Linked DNA regions of Homo sapiens. The protein of the gene in region 2 purifies or fractionates together with the protein of the main gene of each other region. This does not show direct contact. Each region holds a gene or a part of one and is shown on either strand. Other genes may lie near its edges.

Region 1 (6,151 bases), about 170 Mb from region 2:
TTCTGTGCCCCAGCAATACCCACCACACCTTCCTGCATGTCTACATTTCCTTTGTTTTTTCTGGTTTTTAAATAAATCCTCTTCCCTCCCTTCTTTGACATTATCTTATACTTTAAACCCCAGCTCAAGTGTCACTTTCTGAAGGAACTTTTTGAAGAAACTTCTCAAATCTCCTTACAGTTCTCCCTCTGTATCTGTGGGTTCTGCACCCATGGATTCAACCAACTGTGGATAGGAAATATTCAAGAAGAAAAAAGCATCTGTATTGAACATACAGAGATTTTTTTTCTTGTCATTATTCTCCAAACAATACAGTATACCAATGATTTGCATAACATTTACGTTGTATTAGGTATTATAAAGTAATCAAGAGATGATTTAAAGTACATGGGAGGATGTGTGTCAGTTATATGCAAATACTGTGTCATTTTACATAAGGGACTTGAGCATCCAAAATCCTTATCTCTCTTTCATAACGTGTCACAGTTGAGTTTTCTATTTATTTTCCGTGATTATTTGTATAATATCTTTTTCTCCCGTTGGACTATAAGACCCATAAGGGCAGGTATAGCATTTGGTATTGCTCCTCATTTTATCCCTAGCACTATGCAAATGATGACTTGGAGGATATTTGCTGGCCAACTGCATCACAGAGGCAGAGACTGAACAGGATGTAGCATGTAGGCGTCGATGCTATTTAAGCACTTTCTTGTAGGAACCCTAAATAAAATGCCTCTACTGGTTTCACTGTATATTCATTATAAGAGGTTTAACTCACTCTTCAGCCTTCCAGTGGATTTTAAAATGACTATATCTTATAATTCATAGGCCTAAAATAATAGAATTTTATGAATAATCTCAGTTCTTGTCTTGTGAAAGTATTTCTGATCAGTCACATTAATACCCTTAGTCATTCAAAAAAATCTATGTTATCTGCTTCTTTATGACTTACTGAGTAGGAATTTCACTTTTCAAAGGAATATTATTTGAAAATATAGCAATGATATATGCTGTTTAAAATTGATTCTGTTTAATATGTTCTTATGCATAAGCTTTAGGTATCTAATACATTTTAGCCATACATTGCAAATCTCTATATATTTTAATATTATTATTGGTTAGCGTACTTCTTGGCTTACTAATGTCCACTGATGTCAGTCTTAGTTATTGTCATTCCTTCCAATTTGGAAGAACGTTTATTTTCTAACACTGACACATTTTGCACAGTGAATCTATAGGAAAATGTGACTGCATAAAGACAGTCTTCATTTCAGTGCTGATGCTCACCTTTCTGCATTAACATGAGTCTCTTTCACGTTTTATTTCATCTTGTTGCAAAAACCAATATGCTTTGGAAAGTGTAATAGTACATTTTTTTAGAGAAGTAGCATGAGGTTTGTTTCTTTCTCATACAGATCCTGAAATGGAAAATGAAGAACAACCATCCTCTGAAAATGATTCTCAGAATCAGAGTGGTGAACAGATTTCATCAAGTTCTCAGGAGGTTGATTTGGTTGATCAAGAGTCTTCTGAGGAAAATTCTCTAAATTCTCACCCAGAATCATTATCTCTAGCAGATATGGACAATGCTGCAAGCATTTCCCCTTCTGAACAGACTTCTAATCCCACAGAAAACCATGAGACTACAAATCTTAATGGTGAATGTACAGATTTAGATAACCAGCTTCAAGAACAATCAGAAACTGAGGAAGATTCCAATCCTAATGTTAGCTGGGGTAAAAAGGTCCAGCCTATAGACTCCATATTAGCAGACTGGAATGAAGATATAGAAGCATTTGAAATGATGGAGAAGGATGAGCTATGACTTGCTAAACAATCTGTTGGTAGGTATTTAAAAAGAAAAGGTAAACTGTGTGTGGTTAATAGACATCCTAATACTAAGCAGGCTTTCTAATGGGAGGCTTTAAGTATGGTGATGAACAACCACGTTCTGACTGGCGTAGTTATCGTAGGAATCTGGAGCATGCTGTGTTAGAATTGACCTTGTTTAAAACTGTCCCATCAAAAATGGAAATCCACAGTTCCCCCTTCAAATGCAGCACTGCACCACCCTGCAACACCTCAGGCCAGGGAAAGATTACTGAGCATTCCTGCGAACCAGATTTCTGTTGTCTCTGGATAGACAAGAAACAAAATTCATTTAGTAGTGGAGTGGGGAATAGGAGTTTGGATAGCCTTCTAATTAAAGGAAGCTCGCCTTTCTTGGTTTTGGGGGTTAGAGGCTCTTTTGGGAAGATGCATCCGAGTATTGTGGCATTCTGATTATGCTGCCTTCACAAAACACTCTAAGTGACCTAAGTGGTTATGAAGCAAATGCATTTATGGTGAAAACAGTCTTTGCTCATTGCTTTCTCTTGTTTCATTTAGTGACAAATGATCAAGATGACTTGATTTTTTTTCCTTCTTAACAATGTCTTTTTTATTTAAACCAAAGGTGAAGCCAGTGTACTTTCTCAGTGAGTTCTCTGCATAAAGACTAATCAGTGGGACCAGGTAAAAAGGTCATATAATACATTGTGGAGATTGCTTACTTAATACTTCTGAAAAATGGAGTAAGGGAGAAACTGTAATGTTGCAATATGAACCTCCCATTGGGCCTTCCATAGGGAAAGCTGTGACTACTCTGAAATGGAACCTAGCATTATATCCTTGTAGGGTAGATTATAAATCATTTCCAGTTCATTTCTCTTAGAGGTGATTACCTCTAGCCATCAGCCTTACTCCATCCCATGTTTGGTATGCAATTTGAGCCACAAGGCTCGTATCGCCAACAGCTATATACATTTTGTTCCATTTTTCTGTCTTACAGAGCCATGATAGAACTGTGGTTAGTGAGTTAAAATTCCTGGAGTAACTACTGTTTTTCTCCTTTGAAACTTAGGTTTCTAAAGTTGCACCTAAGGAATCTGTCACATTTTCTGTTGAATCATGGTTTTTGTTTTTGTTTTTAACAGATATTCCTTCTGATACGGACTTGAAAATTAGTGTATGGTGACCTGTGTTTAAAAAAAAAAGTACAATACAACTACATATAGCTATATAGCTTAATGAGACTTCCACCCCCCCCCTTTTTTTTTTTGGTTTGTTGTTGTTGTAGTAGTCTGGTGCTGGCCACATTTAAGTCTTAAAAATTTTTAAATTTTGTTGTTGATGTTTGTAGACAGCCCTGTTGTTGAAATCATGGCTTTATTCATTTTATTTATTTTTTAAACTTGCCTGAATTTGTTCTAAAGGAATATTTAAGAGACATAATTTTCTTCTCTTTACCATAACATTACACAAAACTTTTTCCTAAAACACGGTTGTGAGGTACTGATGAGGTGTAAGTGGAGCTGTTAAAAACAGCAGTGCTGTATTGCAGTTATGTATATTCGTGTACAGTATGTTTAGATCCCAGGTAAACATATTCTTTTCTGAGAGGATAAATACCTGCATTCAGATATTCCAGGTAAATATAATTGAGTCAGGGAGTAGTAAATCTGATGGAGAATTCACTTTGGGGAGGGGAAAAAGAATAGTATGCAAGACCCTTATTGGCTTTTAATTATACCTGAAACCAAAATGGATATTTTTAGTCTCTCTGCATGTGAGATTTGGTGTAACAAGATAGAACTATAATATATACAGTATATGGAAGGATAGATATAGTGCTTTGTTCATTTTAATTGCAAAGCTGCCAAAATAGTTGAAGCTTAATTACTTGACTTGCCTTGATTTATAGGACTGGGGCTTGGAGAAAATGAGCAGATGTTCCTCTAAGACATCGATTACAGAAGCCTTATATACATGGATTTGATTTTGTATTTGTAGCTGAAAGTCACTGTTGTCTAAAACTAACTTTTCTAAGTTATCAAAACAACCTAATTTCTTTTCCAACAAGGAGAACTTAATGGCATGAAGGATTGTGTGACACATTGGAAAAGCCAGCTTACTGCCACTCTCTTCCTTTGGCCATTAGAGGGAGGTGTTGCCTTTCATTGACGCTTAGAAGCAAATTGTTCACTTGTTAAGAAAAGTAAATCCTTAAAAAAAGAAAAGGAAAAAATTTAACCAATTTTTCTTAATACCCAGAAGGAATTATACTCAATATTTCCCTAGTTAAGAAAAGAGGAGATAATGTTCGTCTAAAAAACTCCAACGTTGTAATTACAACTCTACATTCATTTACTTACTTGACATACTGCCACAAAGTAGTTTTTGAGTTCATTAAAAATTCCAAAGGCATTAGTTGTTTTTTTTTTTTTTAGTGTTTTGTTTTTTAGTTAACTTTTATAGACATTTTAGTAACTTGCTAAAGATTCAGGGGATTCTATGAAACCCCGAATTTAGAAACATCTGGTCTACCTCAGTTAAATGTTGACTGCTTAGAAATATAGCTGAAGTGATCACCACAGCCATAAAATTGTTTAAGAAAGATTTATATAATGTTTACAAATCTGGAATCAAGGATTTTAGCTGAAATCCTTTAAGAGATATTAGAGCAAGTATTTAATTCAGGTATTTTCAAGTTTTAAAACTTAACCTGTTTACCTACTAAAAATAAAATAGCTAGTTTTTTTCTGCATATAAAAGTTCATTGAAATGATATGCCCTTATTTGCAATACTTTTCCCATAAAGTTTTAAGTGTGAAAGAATTGTAATTTACTAGATATGTTTGGTATGGGATATTTTGTTAGGCAAGTTTTCTTTTTTCTTCTTAAATTGCAATAGGCTTCCAAAAAGAGTATAATTGTTTCAGAACAAATTAACTCTTGGCATTATACGTCTCCCTTTTTCTTTACAGTATTAGTAAAAAGAAAAATTGTACACTTTCTGATTTTAACTTCACTAATGTAATTACTCTCTCAAGAAGCTTTTAAAATTTAAATTACCATCACACAACCTTTTTTATAGTAAAGCCAACATTTGTTCTCTCACCAAACCCCATGCCAAATTCATCATGAAGAAAGCTCAGCATAAGTAATTCAAATACTGCTTATAATTTTAGAGGGGGGTAGAATTTAGTAAATATTCCAGCCGGTCGTTTTATGCACAAGGCTTCAGTCAGAACATAGAAAAAAAAAACATTCTGTGAATGAAATATTGTATGTTCAGATTTTATAAAAGACATTTTTAAAAGCCCAATTTACAGCCGTATATTTTCTTATGATGTAATTTATGAAAAAGATGTCTGTACTAACAGGTGCTGTAACACTACTGTTGTTGGATTTTATTGTTTGGTGATAAATGTATACAATATTTCTAAGGGAAACTATGTACTGTGATGTAAAAGTCTGGGCAAAATGTATATAATCCTGTATATAATTATGTATTTGATTATAATTACTGATTGTAAAGATTTAATAAAATATGTAAATATTCCAGTTTAGTTTTAATTTGAATTTTTAGAATCACTGTGCATATCCTCATACTTTTATGTCTTGATGTTTATCACTCTGTTTTCCTTTTTTTTTTAAACTCATTTTATCCTCCGGGGATTGAATTCTGGGGACATTTTAGGCTGTAGAAACCCAAGCTTGTGGGCTAAAGTAAGGATTTTGTTCTAAGAAATCACTGAAAGTTTTTCAACAAGTCAGTAGCATGCACAAAGGTAATGCTAAGTGAATAAAACTCTAGAATTGTGTATAAATTATGATCCAGCGCTTGCTCACTCTCTCCATACACATATATACATACACATTATATATATATACACACACATATATATAATGACATTGACTCATTTATTCAACAAAGATTAAGGGCGTGCATGCCTTCTGTATGCCAGGCACTATTATAGGACCTGGGGTTGTAGTGGACAGATGGACAAAATGTGGTAAAGAAGATAGAAAATAAAGTAGTAAGTAAAAAGGACAATGAGTTTATGAAGAAAAAATTATGGTGAGGGGATAGAGAGTGGTGGAAATCATGGAGTGAGTTAAATAGCCAAAATACTAACAGTGGTTATCTTGGATTGTAGGCAATTGCTATTTCCTTATTTGTATATGTCAGTATTTTCATAAGTTTCCAAAATAAGCATTATGCTTTTAAAAATAAGTAGTTTAGGTCAGCGAAAGAAGAGAACATGAAAAATACACACGAGGTGGGGCATAGTGGTGCACACCTATAATCGCATCTCCTCCTCAAGAA
Region 2 (7,697 bases):
AAGCTATATGATTGCACTACAGCACTCCAGGGTGGGTAACAGAATGAGACTATGTCTCTAAAAAAAATAAAAAATAAAAAAAAATTGTTTGGCAATTACCAAGGCCACTTTCCTGGTGGAACTCAGGAAAACAATGGAACAAGAGGGAAAAACCTCTAGGATTCCTTCCCATGTCTACAGAGGATCAGTCCCGCTCCTCACCTGGGCTCCCCGGGCACGGCCCCCCTCCACCTCTCCAGCTTTAGCTTCTGCTGCCATTCTTCTTCCCTTTGACTCTTAGGCCACACTCGACTACTTACATTCTCCCACTAGTCCAAGTCTTTCACATAGCTGCACCTTTGCTTACAACATCCTCTCCCATTCCTGGCTATTTCCTCCTTTTTCTTTAAAACCTAGGTATCACTTCTCTAGAAGGCCCTCCTTGTCCTCTGTGTCTCCCATCCTAGCATGTCACACTGTCCAAGAGTTCAGCTGTCTAACTAGACTGCCAGACACTGGGCCAGAATAATCGCTGGATTGTGCAACTTGAGTGGAGGCTAACAGAGCTATAAAGTCCTGACAGAAATCAGAGAGACTTTTTTTTTTTTTTTACTATATTCCATAATTTAAAACTGACTCTGGCCAGGTGTGGTGGCTCATGCCTGTAATCCTAGCACTTTGAGAGGCTGAGGCTGGAGGATCACTTGAGCCCAGGAGTTCGAGACCAGCCCTGGCAACACAGTGAGACCCCCATCACTACAAAAAAAAAAAAAGAAAAGAAAGAAAGAAAGAAAGAAAAAAAGATAGTTGGGTGTGGTGGTGCATACCTGCAGTCCTAGCTACTCGGGAGGCTGAGGTGGATGGATCACTTGAGACTGGGAGGTTGAGGCTGCAATGAGCCATGGTTGCCCCATTGCACTCTAGCCTGAACAGAGTGAAACCCTGTCACAAAACAAAACAGAACAAAACAAAACAGGACTCTAAGAGAAGGCCTGAGAGAAAAGACTTCTAATAGGTTCAGGACACATTCTTTGATAGAAGTGGCAAATTAGAAAGCTCAGGGAAAAGATGGAAATATCTTCTGTGATGGACTTGGACTTTCAGTTGAGACAGGAATGGGATGGAGTGCTAGAAAGGCAGATATGTGGCCGGGCATGATGACTCACACCTGTAATCCCAGCACTTTGGGAGGCCGAGGCGGGTGGATCAACAGATCAGGAGATCGAGACCATCCTGGCTAACATGGTGAAACCCTGCCTGTACTAAAAAATACAAAAAATTAGCTGGGCATGGTGGCAGGTGCCTGTAGTCCCAGCTACTTGGGAGGCTGAGGCAGGAGAATTGGCGTGAACCCGGGAGGCAGAGCTTCCAGTGAGCCAAGATCGTGCCACTGCACTCCAGCCTGGACGACAGAGCAAGACTCCGTCTCAAAAAAAAAAAAAAAAAAAAAAAGGCAGATATTCAACGGCTGTATAGAGTATGGCAGGCTGTGGTTTTTTCAAAGACTTCAGAAGAAGTGAAATATTCCTTTGAGATACACAATTAAAACTAACAGCAAGGCAGCTTCTTCTGAGATGTATTCATTCCACAAGCTGAGAGTGGGCAGCAGTCTCTCCAACGGGGCATTTTCAAGCAAATGGGATCTGATGCTCCTCTCTGGATAGAAGGAGAGACCACCCCTAGGTGCTCCCCTGCCCTGTGACCCTCAGACTACCTTGGTGCCAGCCCAAGGCAGTGCGGCCCAAACACTGTGAAGTCTTTTGAGAACCTCCAGGTTGAGTACAACCTCACTGACTTTTTTCATTAAGAACAAAAGCTTAATTTTCATAAACACCTTTTCCAGGAGCACCAAGCTAGCCCTCTTTCAACACCAGCAAAATGGAGAAAAGGAAAATCTAAACAGTATCCAACCTAGGTTTTCCAGATTTTGTCAGTTAATTCCCATTTTTAAGGTCACTCTGCTCACTGAAAGGCAGAAGAAGGATTTAAAAGCCTCTTTCAGAGAAGGCAATACCATTTTAGTCCTCCACATCCTTCATGGTTTTCTCTACTGGCTTAGCTGTGCTCAAAACAAGGACTTCTTTTTCCTTCATTTAGATATTCAGAATCTAGGACATCATAAGGTTGTGGATGTTTTAGAAAATAGATAATCTTCTGGCATGAGAAATATCCTTAATTAGCTATTTTTCCTCAAAACTGGAGGGGGGGTGAGTATTGACATTTGGGTAGCTTATGCAATTCAAGAGCTTCTGTCTTCTGTCTTCAAGTATTGCCTTATGTTAGAAATAAGTTTCCAGAAAATAAATGTCAAAGACCAGACACTCATGCTAAAGGCTAGATGCTTCCAATACAAACTTACGAACCTCCTCCTACCTTTCCTAAAAGGGACTGTTACATGGGGTACAAATATGAATGATTAATTTATTTTCTGCCCACATATAAGAATCAATTCATAACACTTTCCTGTTTGGGTGAGCTACTGGGAAGAATAAACAAAAGCTGGCTAGAACTCCACAAAGTTCCACTGTTCTTTTGTGCTTTCTCTGCTGCACTGTTACATGAGAGTTCCAAGGCAGCAGGGTCACGTGGGATGCTATACATCAGTGGTCCCCAATCTTTTTGGCACTAGGGACTGGTTTCGTGGAAGACAATTTTTCTATGGACCAGGGTGGGGGTGGGGAGATGGGGGATGGTTTTGAGGTAAAACTGTTCCACCTCAGATCTTCAGGCAGTACTTAGATTCTCACAAGGAGCACGCAACCTAGATCCCTCACATGTGCAGTTCACAACAGGGTTCACACTCCTGTGAGGATCTAATGCTGCCACCGATCTGACAGGAGGCAGAGCTCAGGCGGTAATGCTCACTCACCTGCCACTCACCTCCTGCTGTATGGCCCTATTCCTAACAGGCCATGGACAAGTACAGGTCTGCAGCCTGGGGATTAGGGACCCCTGCTATACATGACTGTATGGTACATAGCACTTCTGTGGCATGTGGTTTAAGCTCAGTGTCATTTGATGGCCAGGAGATCCACTTGAAAATCCCTATTTTTAGCAGACCTTGTAGGATGCCAATATTTGGGGCCAGAGTCTCGTTACTAAAATGAATGCTATGGAGCTAAGGCTGTGGTGCCCAGCTGGGCTAGACATTTGCAAAAAGAGAGCAGACTGGCAGACAGTGCCAATTCTCAACAGAATCTTTTGATTAGAATGCCAAGTTGCTATAAGGGTATCAGTAACATCCTCACCCTTTAGCAGGCAAAGGAGGCTGGGTATGTGAGAAAACAAACTCTGATCCACCTGATCCTCCACTGCTTTTTGATTCTGAGAAAAAAAAAAATTGTTCAGTAACTCCAGCTGCCTGAACAGAAATTACTTTCTGAGGAGCTAGAAGCCCTGACTGGAAAAGAGCTCTGGGGGATTATGGCATGGGAGGAGAGCTGTCAGGCATCAGGCTTATGTGGGAAGGACCCACGCTGACTACAACAGTACAAGTAACTGCCTGAGTGGCTCCATAACATGGAAACAGCAATCGTATGTTCCAAAGACAGAGTTACTGTTTTAAGGACAGAGGAACCTTTGTATAGATTCTTAGTGAAAAGCTTATTTTAAGGATGTTTGCTGAAACTCCATGTTTTTCACATTTCTTTTCAAAAGAGCATTGTCCTTCATATATAGTACATGAAAAATTACAATATTCATGTTTTTTAGATACAAAGTCATATACAAATAGAGGAGGAATAATTTCAAATTGCAAACCATACCAGCAAAGAAAGAGGGAAATGAGACTCTAGATATGGATTTATTAGGTGACAGGGATTCTTTTCTCTATATTTTAATATATTTTCCAAGTTTTGAACCACGGGCTAAGGATGGGCCTGTTCTCTGTCCTGCCTAGAAACTGACAGAAGCATGGGTGACCAATCCCAGACATGCTTGGCACTGCTGAGTTTTCATCTCTGTTGTAATCTTCTGACACCTCCTTGCAAAATATCAAGTGTTATATGCTAATACTGGCCCTCTCTTTGTTGAAGGAGAAAGCATGTAAAAAGACAACTGTCCAAACCCTGTGGCTACAAAGTCTTTTTTTGGCTTCCTAAGAGATTTACTCTATTCTTCTATTTCTAGAACTTTTCTAAGTTGGAAGATTTCAAATGTGAGATAGTGTTAGATCCAGGTTGAGTAAGGATTTTATAAAATACTAAATAATGATCAGAGATGGGAATAATCAGCCTAGATAAAAGCATATTCAGCAGGATGTCAAAATATACCAGATCCTCATATAAACAGCATGGATTACATTAACAGGCCTCCCTGGGTGAGTAGCGTCTCTTTCGCCTACCTTACGCTCACCCCATGGTTATATAACCTTTTGAACGGAATTTGGAAATTCTTCTGACCCTGTCCTGCTTGCTGATAGAGTTGAGCCAGTGGCTGGCAGGGGCATAATCTAATAGGCGAAACTGGAAACACACAAATTCACAGTCCTCTTGTCTTAGCCCAGAGACTGTACAGGCAAGGAAAGAAAGACTCGCCCCATCTCCCTCCTCCCCTCCTCTGGCCTAAGTTGCCGCTGACTTCACCCAACAGGCACCTGACCCTCCCAGATGAGCTGGGAGGGGCTAAAGCCTGGTGCAGCCATGGTAGGGGTGGAGGTACAGGCAGCAAACAATATTTAAGATGCTGACTTGTGGAGCATTCGGGCTTGGAAGGAAAGCTATAGGCTACCCATTCAGCTCCCCTGTCAGAGACTCAAGCTTTGAGAAAGGCTAGCAAAGAGCAAGGAAAGAGAGAAAACAACAAAGTGGCGAGGCCCTCAGAGTGAAAGCGTAAGGTTCAGTCAGCCTGCTGCAGCTTTGCAGACCTCAGCTGGGCATCTCCAGACTCCCCTGAAGGAAGAGCCTTCCTCACCCAAACCCACAAAAGATGCTGAAAAAGCCTCTCTCAGCTGTGACCTGGCTCTGCATTTTCATCGTGGCCTTTGTCAGCCACCCAGCGTGGCTGCAGAAGCTCTCTAAGCACAAGACACCAGCACAGCCACAGCTCAAAGCGGCCAACTGCTGTGAGGAGGTGAAGGAGCTCAAGGCCCAAGTTGCCAACCTTAGCAGCCTGCTGAGTGAACTGAACAAGAAGCAGGAGAGGGACTGGGTCAGCGTGGTCATGCAGGTGATGGAGCTGGAGAGCAACAGCAAGCGCATGGAGTCGCGGCTCACAGATGCTGAGAGCAAGTACTCCGAGATGAACAACCAAATTGACATCATGCAGCTGCAGGCAGCACAGACGGTCACTCAGACCTCCGCAGGTAAGGAGACCAGTCCCCTGAGGGAGCGTGGAGTGCCTCCCCATCTACAGCACTGCTTCTACATATCCTGGTCATCAGAACCACTACTGGGGCCTCTTTTGTGGGTACACTTTCCCTTTAGTAAAGGCTTATGCAGTATTTCCTTTGACTTCTAATGCTATGTAAGTTTACCTAACACCTTCACGGGTCTCTTTTATCCACACAGTGTTTCAGCCTACCATCTTGGAGTGCTGAGATACTACATGGTTTGCCCAAAGTCACCCAGCAAGTCTTAGAAGCAGGGTTCAAGTCTTCCTGATTGGTGTAGCTCTGCTACTTCCTCACCAAGAGCTGACAGGCTATATCTCAAGAAATTCCAAGGAAGCACCAAACTGTAACAGCTGTTCCTCTGGAAGCAAAGTTTTGCCAGAAACAGTTCTCTGGTGTTCCTAAGATTTACCAGGAATGAGCATTAATGGAATTTTGTGTCCTCTCTCTGTAAACGTAACTCTTCTCATTGGCTCAGAGTTAAGTGTAGAGACACATAACCATGTGAAGAGTCCCTTTGTGTTCAGGAAGGATGCGGCTCCTTAAGGTTCCTCAATTGTGATACGTCTATTTTTTTCCATGGTCTTAAATGAATTTCTCCGAATACAGGATTTTTTAAATGCAATGCTGAAATATAGACTTAATAGGCCAAAAATAAGATAAATTTAATCTTTCTTTTGCAAAATAACTTTTATTTCTGGTTAGCTCAGCTCAGGTGGGCCAACATGAATTTACGGTTTAGAGATAAAAATTTGGTTTTCTGAAATTATCAGGAAAATATTAGTTGTAAGGAGCATATCCTATAGACATGTCATTTCTTGCTGATATAAAAACCATTGGTCCCATTATAAACTACATGAAGAACAAAGACATGATCAGCTTCTACTGACTAAGTCAATGGTTAACCTCAGCTCAAATTAAGAAAAAGTTTTAACATGAAACCAAGCTTGAAAATTCTGTTACCTGAACCAACATGTATCAATCACTTTCTAAGCATGGACTTCCGGGCCCTCAGTTTGGGATTAGAAAGGTATTCTCAGGCCATTTTCCAGACAAGTGAGTCCTGATTTGGTCTGTGAGATGAAACCAGACATGCGGAAGACCAGGCCAGACAGAGGAATCTGACCGTGCCACTTCCTGCTCATCCAAACAGGAGGCTTTCTCACCATCCTGCAAGGAGGTTCTTGGGGTCAAGTGCAGCTCTCCCACCAGGTCTCTTGCTCTTCTTGCCCAGGACATCATTCCTTATTTTTCTTCTCTATGACCAAGTGCTCAGTTACCCTTATATTCTATAAGTAGGTAGTCCCTTAGAGGAAGCAGTAAGTTGGTGCTTTCACCACTAAGACGAAATGAAGAATAGTGATGGCGAAGGCACACGTACTCTACCTCCCTTTCCCAAGGTGCTCTGCAAGAGAACCTATGTGCCTCAGACAACTCCCATCTGCCATCTTGGTGCTCCTCTCTAAGGTCCCAGTGCAGTGGTCACCAAGAAAAGCACCCCGAGACATAGCAGGCAGGAAGCTTCTCTTGGATAGTAAGGGCCGCAGTCTCTGAATCCTATCAGAAAAGGCTGTCTCTTCCACTATGCTCTTTGATATTTAGAATACAGAGCTTAAATCCTGCATAAAGTAGCAGCTCCATGGCCCTAGAGTAAAAAAACTGGCCAGTCTGATGCTCTCATTTCATTGTTTTAACAAAACTTCTGGGAGGAAGGCCTCAAAGGTTCTTCTGAGTGTTTTGAGGTGCTAGCTGGATGGAAGGGGAAAATATGTGATAATAAAATCTATCTCCCTTAATTATGGTCTCAGGTGGCAGTAGCCACCATCTCTGAACAACAACAAAAACAACCAACCAGGAAACATCAACAAAACCAGACTCTATGAGATATTCACGACTGATTTGTTATAGTGGCGGCTGTCTAAGAAGTCTGAATCTATCTGACAGGAGTATCTGTTACGTGGCCCTCATACACTGTAACATTTCTAGAATTCATGGCCCAGCTATAGCAGAATAATTTATTTCAGAGTTAACCTGAAACCACCTGTTGGAACGTCCCACTAATGCTATCCAGGTGAAGGGCTTCCCTACCCCTCTGCTCCACCGCTAGTAAAGCCAAAATACACCCCCTCTGGATCTCCCCATATCCACCTCTCCCAAATGCAGACACTGATGGGTAATTAACACCACTGAGAATCCCAGGGTAGAAATAAAGGCTCAGTCTCTAAACACTCAACTCAGATGGAGCCACTGGGTCTAAATGCTCACCCTGTGGTTTGTTCTCTTGTAGATGCCATCTACGACTGCTCTTCCCTCTACCAGAAGAACTACCGCATCTCTGGAGTGTATAAGCTTCCTCCTGATGACTTCCTGGGCAGCCCTGAACTGGAGG
Region 3 (7,029 bases), on a different chromosome or scaffold from region 2:
GTGAAACTTCATCTCAAAAAAAATTATAAAGAAATAATATCAGTGACTAGTTAGTATGTTTCTGTAGGGCTTAGTACAGACATGTATTAATTCTTCTAACAACTTCTTGAGGTTAGTACCTTTACTCCTTCTTATCGTTAAGAAACCTGATGCTTAGGGATGGGCACAGTGGCTCACGCCTGTAATCCCAGCACTTTGGGAGGCCAAGGCGGCAGGACTGCTTGAGCACAGGAGTTCAAGACCAGCCTGGGCAATATGGTGAAACCCCGTCTCTACCAAAAATATAAAAAATTAGGCATGATGGCACATGTCTGTGGCTCCATTTGTTAGGGAGGAGGGTGAGGTAGGAGGATTGTTTGAGTCAGGGAGGCAGAGGTTGCAGTGAGCCGAGATCGCACCACTGCACTCTGGTCTGGGTAACAGAGTAAAACCCTGTCTCACACAAACAAAAAAAAGATATAAAAGAAACCTGATGCTTAGAAAGGTAAAAAGGGCCAGGTGTGGTGGCTCATGCCTGTAATCCCAGCACTTTGGGAGGCCAACATTGCTCAAGTCCCAGAGTTCGAGGCTGTGATGAGCTATGATCACACCACTGCACTCCAACCTGTGTAACAGAGCAAGACCCTGTCTCAAAAAAAAGACTTGGACTGGTTCAGGTCAAGTACCCACTCCACAGCTAGAGGGATGGGATCAGCCTCTCCCAAACCACAGGAGTGACTGCCGGGGAAGAGTGATTCCTCGAGGGTAAATTGAGATGTTACTATCAAAAGAAGAGAGATTGAGATTGCATTTGGCTAACGGTTTAAATAAAGAGGGTTTATTTTCTCAAGTAAAAGAAAGTCTAGAGGTAATTTCTAGCATTGGGTCAGCTACGCAACTGTGTCATTAGAGACCAGCCTCTTTGTAGCTTTGCATTCTAGTATCGTTAGTGTTTTGGCTTTTATTCTAATGCTTAGTACGTCATGGTCTCACATAGCTGCCATCACTTCAGAAATCGAGTCTGAGTTCAAGGCAGAAAGAGAGAGACTAAAAGCCATGTTAGCTGTGTTTGTCCCTTGGTATTAAGAAAACAGAAGCCTTCCCAGAAGTGCCCCCAGTAGACCTCTCAAGGGTCAGAATTGACTGGGTAACACAATCAACTGCAGCAGCAAAGGAGGCCGAGAAAGCTTCTGGATTTCCAACCTCTGGTGGGAGGCCATGAGGTAAAGAGGGTAGGAATGAATTTGTTTTGGGCCAACCAACCTGTTCTGTTTTCCACAAGGTTGAAGGTGACAACTGGTATCTACTGCAAATGTCAAACTAAGACTTTTGGCCAGGTGCGGTCGCTCACACCTGTAATCCCAGCACTTTGGGAGGCCAAGGCGGGTGGATCATGAGGTCAGGAGTTTGAGACCAGCCTGATCAACATGGTGAAACCCCGTCTCTACTAAAAATACAAAAATTAGCCGGGCATGGTGGTGCATAATCCCAGCTACTCGGGGCTGAGGCAGGAGAATCGCTTGAACCCAGGAGGCGGAGTTTGAAGTGAGCCAAGATCACGCCACTGCACTCTACCCTGGGCAGCAGAGCGAGACTCTGTCTCAAAAAAACGAAACAAAAAACCTAAGACTTCTATGCGTAGTTTGCGTTCTTTATATTGTGTCCATTTAAATGACAACATCGTGACTCTTAATTGGGACCTAGGAATTTACTTAACCAGTCTCTTGGTATGAAGTCTCTAGATGATTTCTAGCTCTCAGTGTTTTCTTCTGCTGTCACCAATCCTAGGACAGAAACTGGAGGTCTTAAGTGGAATTAGTGAGGGCCACATCAACATAGGATCCCAGACTCTGAATCTGCCTCCATGCATGTAAGAGCCTCATTGTCAGGTCTCTTTTTTATTTCCAGATTTTGGGGAATGTCTCAGAATTCCAAAGAGTGGTTGAAGTGCTCCAGGACAGCGTGGACTTTGATATTGATGTGAACGCCTCTGTGTTTGAAACAAACATTCGAGGTAAGGGCTGCTCTCTAGGACCTTTAAAAGAAAAAAGAGTGTGAAGTTGCCTCTGTAAACCAAGAAGTGGTAAATAGGATTTTAAGGACTGACCATGCCAGGACCCTTGGCCAAAACCTCTGACCGACAGAGCTCTTCTTCCCTCCTGGAGGGTGAGGTGGGGAAGTCTCAGGATTTCCCCATCAGTTTCAGATATGAAAGTGAGCAGGAGACTAAGAGACTGGAAAGAAATACACCAGATTACTCACCTCTTTAATATGTATTTGATACTAGGCATACAGCTATGAACAAGAAAGATATGATCCTTGCCTTCTTGGAACTTATTGTCTGTCCAATCCAATTTTCTGCAGTGATGGAAATGTCTTATAGCTGTGTTTTGTCCAGTATGGTAGCCACGAACCACATGAGCTATTGAGCATTTGAAATGTATCTACTACAACTATGGAATTGAATTTTTAATTTCATTTAATTTTAATGATATTAAATTTAAGTAGTCACATGTAGTTAGTGATTATTGTATTGGACAGTGCAAATCTACAGCATTAATCTTCCAAACTTGGCAGCCCATAGGAACCACTCCCAAGTGGTTAAAAAATTCAGATGTTGAGACTCCACCCTAAACCTAATGAATTGGAATCTCTGTGTTGGGTCCTAGAATCAGTATTTTTAGCAGACTTCCAGTGATTCTTGTGAAGCCAGCACAGCCCTTATTTGCATCGAACCTCTAGACCACTTAACAGCTGTCACCTCTGGATGGCAGAGTTCTATTTTTCCCCATTATTTTGTATGTTTTCTGCAATGAAACTTATATTCCAGACATATGATCCATAAAAGATTAAAAAAGAGAAGAGAGCAGAGGGACAACATGGTCTAAAATCCTGGTTTAGGAATCCGGCCTGAGTTTGAGGCTGTACTTGCTGCTATGTCTCCCAGCTTCTGAGCCCAGTTTGTCATCTGTAAATGAAGGTCATTCTTATACCTTTATTTCTGATAGGAATATAAGTGATACCAGCTTTCTTTTGGTTGACATTTTCCCATGTATCTTTTTCTATCCTTTCCATCTTTCTGTAGTTTTATGATTAGATACATCTTTTGCAAATAGTGTATTATATTTTGTTTATCCATTCTGACAATCTTTAACTGGCACATTTAATCCATTTACATTTACTGTAATTACTGATATATTTGCACTCATTTCTACAGTATTGTGCTCTCTGTGCCGTCTTCTTTTTTTTTTTTTTTTTTTTTTTTTTGAGGCGGAGTCTCACTCTGTCGCCCAGGCGGGAGTGTAGTGGTGCAATCTTGGCTTACTGCAACCTCTGCCTCCCGGGTTCAGGCGATTCTCCTGTCTCAGCCTCCTATGTAGCTGGGATTGCAGGTGCCTGCCACCGTGCCCTGCTAATTTTTGTATTTTTAGTAGAGATGGGGTTTCACCATGTTGGCCAGGCTAGTCTCGAACTCCTGACCTCAGGTGATCCGCCCCCCATCAGCCTCCCAAAGTGCTGGGATTATAGGTGTGAGCCACTGCACCTGGCCCTGTGCCATCTTCTTTATGTTCCTTTATTCTGTCCTTTTTCATGCCTTCTTTAGATTGTTTTCCCCCCATTCCATTTTCCTCTTACTAATATGGAAATTATGCACAATATCTAGCTTTTTACATAGTTTTCCAAGCAAATTTAACAAACATAACTTATCAAAGTCTAAATTTAATGAAAATCTTTGTTCTCCTCCTGAATAATGCAAAACCTGACTTAGAGAACATCCTGACCTATATGCTACAGTTATATATTTTAGTTATTTGTTTTAAACCTTCCATACATTATAATTTTTGTTCTATATTGTTGAAGTTTTGCATTTACACATAAATTTACCACTTTTTTTGTTGTTGTTGGTTTGAAATAGAGTCTCACTCTGCCACCCAGGCTGGAGTGCAGTGGCGCGATCTTGGCTCACCTCCACCTCCTGGGTTTAAACGATTCTCCTGCCTCAGCCTCCAGAGTAGCTGGGATTACAGTTGTGCACCACCACACCAGGCTAATTTTTGTATTTTTAGTAGAGATGGTGTTTCACCACATTGGCCAGGCTGGTCTCAAACTCATGATCTTGAGTGATCCACCTGCTTTGGCTTCCCAAAGTGCTGGAATTACAGGTTTAGCCACTGTGCCTGGCCTATTTACCACTTTTTTGACTATTTTTTCTTTTCGTGTCTCAGACCTTTTCTCTAAAGTATTTCCTTTAGAATTTCCTTTAATGCAGGTGTGTGCTTCATAAACATTCCCAGCTTTTGTTTATATGAAAATGTCTTTATTCAACTGCCTTTGGTTGGCCTTTGAGTGATATTTTTGCTGGGTGTATGGTTCTAGGTTGATGGTTACTTTCTCTTATTGTGTTAAAAACTTTTTCCATTATCTTCTGGTTTCATTATTGTTAAGAAGTAATCTGTCAATGTAATTATTATTTATTTGTAGAGAATCTTGTTTTGGTTTTCACTTTGGCTGTCTTCTCCTTTTAAAAACTTTTTGTTATGGAAAACTTCAAACATAAAAGTAGAGAAAATAGCATAATGAACCAGACGTGCCCATCACCCAGCATTAATAATTATTATTACATGGATTCTGGCTGCATTCGAGATCATTTTTCCCTTTGGTGTTCTGCAGTTTTACCATAAGGTACATACATGTAGATTTCTTTTCTTTCTTTCTTTTCTTTTTTTTTTTTTTTCTGAGATGGAGTCTCGCTCTGTCGCCCAGGCTGGAGTGCAGTGTCATGATCTCAGCTCACTGCAACCTCCGCCTCCTGGGTTCAAGCAATTCTCCTGCCTCAGCCTCCCGAGTAGCTGGGACTACAGGCGCACAACGCCATGCCCGGCTAATTTTTTGTATTTTTAATAGAGACAGGGTTTCACCGTGTTTACCAGGCTGGTCACGAACTCCTGAGCTCAGGCAGTCCACCTGCCTCAGCCTCCCAAAGTGCTGGGATTACAGGCATGAGCCACCGTGCCCAGACTTTTTTTTTTTTTTTTTGAGACGGAGTCTCACTCTGTCACCCAGGCTGAAGTGCAGTGGTGCAATCTTGGCTCACTGCAACCTCCACCTCCTGGGTTTAAGCCATTCTTCTGCCTCAGCTTCCCAAGTAGCTGGGACTGCAGGCGCTTGCCACCACGCCCAGCTAATATTTTGTATTTTTAGTAGAGACAGGGTTTCACCATTTTAGCCGGGATGGTCTCCATCTCCTGACCTCGTGATCTCCACCTCGGCTCCCAAAGTGCTGGGATTACAGATGTGAGCCACCATGCCTGGCCTGCATAGGGACCTTTTATCAGACTTCCACTTGGGGCAGGTCTGACCTTGGTCTCCTATTCCCCCTCTGCAGGGAGGAGGGGAATTTTGAAACTTAGGGTCACCAGTTATTTTCATTGAGAGGGCCACTCAGGATATCTATTTAGCTGTATTTCCAAGAACCTTTGTGTCTTTTTAAAAGTTCTAAGTAGGCCGGGTGCGGTGGCTCATGCCTGTAAATCCAGCACTTTGGGAGGCTGAGGCAGGTGGATCATGAGGTCAGGAGATCGAGACCATCCTGGCTAGCACAGTGAAACACCGTGTCTACAAAAAAAAAATCCAAAAAAATTAGCCGGGCATGGTGGTGAGCTCCTGTAGTCCCAGCTACTCGGGAGGCTGAGGCAGGAGAACGGCGTGAACCTGGGAGGCGGAGCTTGCAGTGAGCCGAAATCGCGCCACTGCACTCCAGCCTAGGTGACAGAGCGAGACTCCGTCTCAAAAAAAAAAAAAAAAAGTTCTACATATTGCATAATAAGTTGAAATAGATAAATTAGTAAAATAAAGGTAATAACCATCATTACCCCTTCCCCCCAGGTATGACAGGTGACTGGGAGACAGACAGAGTGACAAATGGAATGAGCATGGGCTTTGGAATCAAAGATACTCAGCCCTACCACCTACTAGATGGGTGACCTGGGGCAAGTCACTTTATCTCATGGAACCTCAGTATCTTCATACGAAGAGGGGACAGTAGTACTTAGTGCTTGGTACACAATAGGGACTTACAAAAAATAGCCACTGTTCCTGTGATGAACCAAGAGAAGAAAACCCCATAAACTTAACACCATAGAAATATGTGGGATTAAGGGACTCTTTTTTCGCTGGGTGGCTCTAGCTCCTTCCCAGTGAGCCACCCCAACAGAGTGAGGTTTTTGTTTGTTTGTTTTTACCCGTGAAATAGCTTCAGGAGGTCCTGAGAACATGCGCCCCACAATAGAGTGTTTATGTTTAACTCGCACAGGGGAAAGATCCTTGATCCCTTGGTCTTTCCCTTTGGACTGTGCCATTTGCTTTCTGTGCCATCTGTAGTGGTAGGAGGACTCCTGTCTGCTCATCTGCTCTCCAAGAAGGCTGGGGTGGAAGTAGAGGCTGGATGGCCCTGTTCCGGGCCTCTCCTGAGAATGGCTGAGGAGGCGGCCCGAAAACTCCTCCCAGGTAAGACCCACACAGAGATGGGGCAGAGACGAAGTCCAGTAGGTCCTGCTTCCCTTGCTGAAGATGAGAGTGGCAGTGCTGAATTAATTCCTGGTATTTCTCACCAGGTGTATTTGGTCTTTCTACCCACCAGGCACCCACCATGGAAATCAGGAGTGTCCTGGGCATTTTAAGGGCCTGCTGGGGCCCTGACCCGGATGGATGAGTTGACCTCATTATTGTTTGCAGGGGATGGTTGAAGGTGGCCAGCCTGGTGGGTGGAAGGCCATTACCCTTATTTTGAATGAGCCCATTTGTCCCCTTCCAGGTACTACAGTTATTCCACACACTGCTGGAGTAACAGGGGCCCAGGGAAGGGTGTTGGTGTGAGCATTAGCAGCCCTGGATTCTAGACTCAGCTCTGCCAGCCAACATCGTGACCAAGCCACTCTTTCTCTTCATAGTTTGTTGTTTGTTTGTTTGTGATGGAGTCTTGTTCTGTCGCCCAGGCTGGAGTGCAGTGGCACAATCTCAAGTCACTGTAACCACCGCCTCCTGGGTTCA

The links. The genes of interacting proteins can lie anywhere in the genome.
Region 1: the proteins of ANGPTL7 (region 2) and EDEM3 purify together in Homo sapiens (affinity purification with mass spectrometry; 2 studies listed by BioGRID and IntAct, with this or other methods). This does not show direct contact.
Region 3: the proteins of ANGPTL7 (region 2) and EDEM2 purify together in Homo sapiens (affinity purification with mass spectrometry; 2 studies listed by BioGRID and IntAct, with this or other methods). This does not show direct contact.

What each region holds. Positions count from the first base shown.
Region 1 is NC_000001.11:184,689,737-184,695,887, reverse strand, and holds the end of EDEM3 (ER degradation-enhancing alpha-mannosidase-like protein 3 isoform 2 precursor), read left to right. Parts: intron 1-1,415; coding exon 1,416-1,825; 3' UTR 1,826-5,651; downstream 5,652-6,151. UniProt on the Homo sapiens protein: Involved in endoplasmic reticulum-associated degradation (ERAD). Accelerates the glycoprotein ERAD by proteasomes, by catalyzing mannose trimming from Man8GlcNAc2 to Man7GlcNAc2 in the N-glycans.
Region 2 is NC_000001.11:11,184,675-11,192,371, forward strand, and holds the start of ANGPTL7 (angiopoietin-related protein 7 precursor), read left to right. Parts: upstream 1-4,680; 5' UTR 4,681-4,905; coding exon 4,906-5,281; intron 5,282-7,595; coding exon 7,596-7,696; intron 7,697-7,697. UniProt on the Homo sapiens protein: Has a role in the formation and organization of the extracellular matrix.
Region 3 is NC_000020.11:35,137,337-35,144,365, reverse strand, and holds part of EDEM2 (ER degradation-enhancing alpha-mannosidase-like protein 2 isoform 1 precursor), read left to right. Parts: intron 1-1,887; coding exon 1,888-1,993; intron 1,994-6,360; coding exon 6,361-6,486; intron 6,487-7,029. Other genes in the region: MMP24-AS1-EDEM2 (ER degradation-enhancing alpha-mannosidase-like protein 2), read left to right, coding at 1,888-1,993, 6,361-6,486. UniProt on the Homo sapiens protein: Involved in the endoplasmic reticulum-associated degradation (ERAD) pathway that targets misfolded glycoproteins for degradation in an N-glycan-dependent manner.